2 linked regions of the Homo sapiens genome follow. The protein of the gene in region 2 purifies or fractionates together with the protein of the main gene of each other region. This does not show direct contact. Each region holds a gene or a part of one and is shown on either strand. Other genes may lie near its edges.

The links. Proteins that work in one complex are often made in the same cells at the same time.
Region 1: the proteins of SPATA6L (region 2) and ZBTB1 purify together in Homo sapiens (affinity purification with mass spectrometry; 2 studies listed by BioGRID and IntAct, with this or other methods). This does not show direct contact.

What each region holds. Positions count from the first base shown.
Region 1 is NC_000014.9:64,507,770-64,511,369, forward strand, and holds part of ZBTB1 (zinc finger and BTB domain-containing protein 1), read left to right. Parts: intron 1-3,479; exon of another isoform or gene 3,480-3,600.
Region 2 is NC_000009.12:4,597,620-4,600,638, forward strand, and holds the end of SPATA6L (spermatogenesis associated 6-like protein), read right to left. Parts: 3' UTR 697-3,019; downstream 1-696.

The sequences.
Region 1 (3,600 bases), on a different chromosome or scaffold from region 2:
TGCCCAGCCTCTGATGGATTGATTTACAGCAGCCAAACACATGAAAACAAAAGCAAACCCTCACCTTTATAGAGAGTTTCATAATTTATAATTAGGAAGGAGTGGGTATACTTGCCATGAAGACCACTGCCAATATATCCCTGTGCTGATATGGGATGGGGTTCCTCTTGATCAGCACCAAAGATTGCATGCTGAACATATGGAAAGGAAATTGGACGAAAGAAGGGTCAATGACCGCTGTTTTCAGATGTGGCATGGAAGAGACTGATACTGGGGAGGAAGCGGCAGGGTCTCACTCCTTAGCCATGTGTATTTAAGAAGAATGAACTGTGAAGAAGTTGATGATGATCTAAAAACAGAGCCCCAAAATAGTACATAGAAAGTTAATTACAACATTGGTTATTTGAGAGTGTTGGGGACGTGGGTGGTTTTTATACTACTCTGTCTTTGAATTTAAAATAGTTTTCAAAATAAAATTTGAAGATTAAAGAATTAACCAGATTTTCTTTTGTCTATATGAGATGCATGCAGTCGTTTTTAGAGATGAGTTCCATCCCCACTTTGAATCTGAAGTATTAGAAGAGGCATGCTCTGGTGGACAGTGGGGAGTTAGCAGATGGAAGGGGATTTAGGGAAGGGACTGGACATTCTTCCTGCAAGATGGAGCAGTAAGAGAATGATGAGAGCTTTTAGATTCATGAAAAAGGTGACTCTAGGAGGCTTAGAATGTTCCAAAGGGGCACTTCAGCTAATAGTCATATTCAGAAGAGTGTTGTCTGGTTTACACAAACTGAAACTTAGGGCTTTGAATCAAGAGTCTCAGCTTCTACTTACAAGATAAGCAGTTTTGGGGAAGTCAGCCACTGAACCTGTTTCTTCATTTGCAAAATGAGGATAATAAAAATACCTATCTCAGGGTGGTTGTGAGATCAGTTGTATAATGTATGGGAAAATGCTTTAAATTTTAATTTTAATTTTAATTTCCAACCACTATATAAAAGTTGCCATGATTGAAATAAACAAAAAATTGATAAGCAAAATAAAACTTACCTGTTTAAACATTTATTCATTCAAAAACTCATCAAGTATCAACTAAATGTCAGACATTCAGTAATGACTGAGATACTGCCCTGATGTCAAGGAGCTTGCAGTAAAGCAGGGGAGCCAAATAATTGCAATATCTGCCTTAAGTGTGGTAACAGAGCATCACAGTTGGGATGATGCATTATTGGTACCATATTGTTGTATGTATAGGCTGTTTTGGCAGCACAGAAGAGGCATCTGCCTCACCCTAAGATCAGAAAAAACTTCCCAAAGAGGCCAGGCACAATGTCTCTCACCTGTAATCCCAGCACCTTGGGAGGCCTAGGCAGGCGGATTGTTTGATCTCAGGAGTTTGAGACCAGCCTGGCCAACATGGCGAAACCCTGTCTCTACAAACAATACAAAAGTTAGCTGGGCGTGGTGCCGCATGCCTGTAGTCCCAGCTATTCGAGAGACTGAGGTGGGAGGAACGCTTGAGCCTGGAAGGGCGGAGGTTGCAGTGAGCCGAAATTGCCCCATTGCACTCCAGCCTGGATGACAGAGCCAGACCCTGTCTCAAAAAAAAGAAAAGAAAAAAGAAGTCCCAAACAGAGTGAGCTAGACATTGAAAAGGTTCTAAGCAAAGGAACAGCATGTGTGAAATGGCAAGGCTTTTGGTGTGTTAGGTTATTTGGGATCGGGGGAATCTTAAAGCTTAAAAATGGAGTTAAGTTTCTTAGAATGAACATGCATTTTATGATTTTTTAAAATTGGTTTCATTTTGTTGAATTTCAATTATATGATTGTGATGTTTTCAGGATTTTGGTTTGAATTAAACAAAACTGGAGCCACAAAATTGGAAACAATACAATTTTTTTTAAAATGTGTAGGATCTGGCCGGGTGTGTGGTGGCTCACGCTTGTAATCCCAGCACTTTGGGAGGCCAAGGCAGGCGGATCACGAGGTCAGGAGATTGAGACCATCCTGGCTAACATGGTGAAACCCCGTCTCTACTAAAAATACAAAAAAAAAAAATTGGCCGGGCGTGGTGGTGGGCGCCTGTAGTCCCAGCTACTCTGGAGGCTGAGGCAGGAGAATGGCGTGAACCTGGGAGGCGGAGCTTGCAGTGAGCCGAGATTGTGCCACTGCACTCCAGCCTGGGTGACAGAGCGAGACTCCGTCTCAATTAAAAAAAAAAAAAAAAGTGTAGGATCTGCTCAAAGAAGGAAACTGGGTAATCCCTCCCATCATCATAGAGCTGTCTCACCAGTTATTCATTCAGTAACACTTACTGAATACTTAATATTCCAGAGAAATGAAAAAGCCAAAGTCCTCGCCTTAAAGTTGCTCACAATCTCATGGGGGAGACCAACACATAATTATAACCAATTCTTATTTAGCACTTACTCCATGAGAGATATACTTAACAATAATTCTTCAGAGGTAGAAAGGATTACCATCCCTTCTTAGAGAATTGAAGCACAAATTGACTAAGCAACCTTCTCAAGGTCACACACTTAATAAGTGGCAGAGCCAGAATTTAAACCCAGGCAGTCTGGTTAGTTTGTGCTTTAACACCTACTTTATGTAGCTGTTCTGATTATTAAAATACAGTGTAAAAAGTGCAAAATAAAGAGGTAATACACAATGAGATCAAAACCTAAAATAGTGGGAGAGGAAGGTGTTACAGAGGCTTTCTGCAGGAGGTGATAAACTGATTTTTAAATGATATCTGGGAGGTTCAGACCCAAAGAACCAATCGGCATGAGTAAAACTGCAGGGGAAGTAAGAAATTTATGAAGTATACTGGATGTGTGTGGAGGAGGGTGAAGGTGGTGATGAGCAGTTTTATGTTGCTTGAACATGAAGTTTGAAGCAGGCAGTAACTAAACATGTAAGACTAGATGGGTGGGCATGGAGGGCTTTGTATGCCTCAATAATGATTTTATACTTTAGTCTGAAGATATGTGAGGGGAACCATGGTAGAATAGTGTGATATGATTTTTCTTCTTCATGAATCATCTTCAAAACAGCATTGCTCTGGGAAGAAAAAGATTACCTGAGAGTGAAGGATTTGAGAGACTGGTTGAGCCTATTTTAATAACTCAGGAGTGATAACAGAGGCCTTGCAAGAGCAGGAAAGGTAGGGATGGAGTAGATGGGCAGATTTGAGAAATATTTAATGGGAAAATTGGCAACACTTAATGGTTGATTATGAGGGAGAAGTTATAGGTAGCTCCCAAGTAGTCTAGGTGATTGGTACATAGTGGTGGCAGCTGAGACAAAATACAGGGAGGGGCATTTTTAAGTGGGTTCCAGACAAAATCTGAGTCCACAGAATTAGTACTTTGAAATAGAAGTCCTACAAAACGAACCCTAAGAATATGAATGCCATGTGCAATAAGGGATTTCCTGGTGAAGCGTTTTTAGCTGAGAAAAGCCTACTGTTTACACAGTGCCCTCTGGTGGTCAGAAGATGCTGTGCTGTCTCGTTAGGATGAATGGATTAAAATGTACTTTTCCTCCTCTGCTTCTGGAGAGGGAGAGAGGAATATTCCAGAAGCCACTGTGTTCCTT
Region 2 (3,019 bases):
ATAATTTGGTGCCCCTAGATTCAGTGTGGAGGATGGGGCTCCCAGGCCAAAGGAGCAAAGGGTTGGGGCTCTCATCACTGTTGGCAGGGTTCCCAGCACAAGGGAAGAGAGAAGAGGTCTCCCTAAGACCTGCAGGTCCGCTAAGTAGTGCTAGGAGGGGTCCCCTAACCAGAGAAAGACAGCAGTCCCATCCGGTGGTACTAGTGGGTTCTCTGGTCACAGCATGGACTACAGAGCATATCCTGTTCCTCAGGCTGCCCTCCAGAGAGCCCAGCGGGCTCCTTTGATGGACCAACTCAGGGGAGTACTGGCTATACTGAGAGTAGCCTGGCATTTGGGTGCTAGGGCTGAACTCACACACATACCCATCAGTCTTCTCAAATTACACCTAAAACCCGCCACCTCTTTTATGTCAAACATATCATTTGCACTCTCATTTTTTAAAAATCTCTTTTATAATTCATGGCCTACAGGCTTCAGCTAACTTTGGGTCAGTCAGGTGACCACAGAGAACTGGCCTCATTGTACAGCAGCTTTTGTTTGGAGGGCCTAGGTTCCACAAAGGAGATTTTCTTAGGAGCCTCTGCAAACCAAGACCCCATGAAACATGCCCATAAAATATGCTCCAGGCTTTGACAGATCTGCAACCATAAAAATCAAGAAAGGAATTATAAACTGAAGCAAGACAGATGGGAATTCTTTTTATGATGTTTAATGACACAGATCTTCCCAAAGTAATCCAAACCCCAAAACATCACAAAATTATTCATACTATTATACACTCCAAAAGCAAAATACTTCAACTGCAATCCTTGCCCCAGCATGATTCCTCAAAATTGAGATAACTCCTTGAGAAACAAAAGTAAAAATAATAATAATTTAAGGAATAGAGTTAATAGATGCAAAAGTAAAGGGAAAAAAAGCGTAATTTAGTGTGAAAACCAAAAATGACTTTAAATAAGAATGGGCATTTAAGATCTTATTAAAGAGTTATGCTTAAACCATTTCAAAAAACACTGAATATTGAATGTCATGGTGTATATTTTAACAATAACTGAAATGGGATACCAATTCATTAGTGCTGCTTTCCTTTAGCTGCTTACGTAAGCAGCCCTCTCCTGAGACTTATAGCGTAACCTTAATGTAACACAATATTTTCTTACTTTTGATGACTACTTAGAGGTAACATCAAAACAACAAATTGACAACCATAGTTTCAGAGAGACTGAGAACATATTAGCATATGTAATTTAAGCTTGCTGTTGGCCTTGCCAAGGTGGAATGCTGGTTGTGATACAGGTTGAGTCTCCCTTATCTTCAGTGCTTGGGACTGACCAGAAGTATTTTAAACTTGGGTTTTGGTTTTTGTTTTTGTATTTTGGAATATTTACATAAACACAATGAAGTATCTTCAGGATAGGGGATAGGACCCAAGTCTAAACACGAAATTCATTTACGTTTTATATACACTTTATACAGGTAGCCTGAAGGTAATTTTATACATGATTTTAAATAATTTGGAGCATGAAACAAAGTTTCGAATGCATTTGACTGCACCCTGCCACATGCAGTCAGATGTGGAATTTTTCACTTATGGTGTTATATTGGTGCTCAAAAAGTTTTGGATTTTGGAGCATTTCAGATTTCAGATTTTTAGATTGGGAGGTTCAACTTGGATATACCTTTATTTGGCTGAAATTCTAAGAAGAGGATAAATGAATTTTGTTTTGTTGTTTTTGTTTTTGGAGTTCCTTTTCTGTTTTAATTTTTAATTTCATTTTCTTAATTTACCTAATGAACCAATCCCTATGATTACAGTGAGAAAAGAAAACTTGGCTCTCACTGAATCTTCTAAAAACTGAACAAGTTTTAGGGTAGTGTCTTACTCTATTCAGGCTGCTATAACAAAATGTCATAAACTGGGTAGCTTACAAACTACAGGAATTCATTTCTCACAGTTCTGGAAGCTGGGAAGTCCAAGATCAGAATGTTGGCAGATGCAGAATCTGGTGAGGGCCCTCTTCCTGGGTCAGAGATGGCGCCTTCTCGCTGTCTCCTCGCCAGTGGAAGGGGCAAACGAGCTCCCTTGAGCCTATTTATAGGGCACTAATCTCATTTATGAGGGGTCCACCCTCACAACCTCATCACCTCCCAAAAGGCCCCATTTCCTTAGAGGTTAGGATTTCAACATACAAATGTTGAGGGGACACAAACATTCACACTATAGTAGGGCTGGTAGAGGAAAATGCTATGCTTACACTATGAAGGAGGGAAATAAGTTTCCATTTTCAGGCCCCTCTTCTCTGGGTCTGTATCAATGAAGACAAATGTGCCTCTAGTCTCCCTTTATCCCAGCCCCTTCCTATTCCTGCTCCCTCACACTGTGTAAGCATTTCATAGATGCACCTTCCTAACTAACTTTAAAACCTGGCATTGGCAGTCCTATCTGTAGAACCTATTTACTTAATGTGTAGTTCTTTTGGAGAAATATTTGAGGAAGGTTTTGTTCCTCATCTAAATTTACAAAGAATTGCTGGAACGAAGGAGTAGGAAACAGAAGGAGCAGTTTAAACTACGCTCCAGAGGAGCCAGCCTCCTCTTACAAATTTATCACAGACATTCAACATCTAAAACAAGATCTGAACTACCCAGACGTAATGCTCTCTTTTCCAAGGTTTTTAGTGGACTTCACGTAAATCAAGCCTAACACTAAGAAATAAACAAACAACAACAAAAACGGATCTACCGAAAAGAGAAAGTCAGGTTGATAGTCTTTCCTGGAGGATTTATCAGGTTATTCCTGTGAATAGCAACTTCCTCTAGCTCATATATAATTAATTTGAGAGAGAGAGACAGAGAGAGCCAGAGAGAGCCAGAGAGAGAGAGAGGGGAAGTGTTCAGATAAGCACCTGCCACCCAACTACAGCGCTTTCTCTTTCATGTTCAAAACAAACATGCAAAAACACAAATTTTCCAGCTTGACAAGAAAATGTTAGCCCCCAAACAGCAAACACTTTAA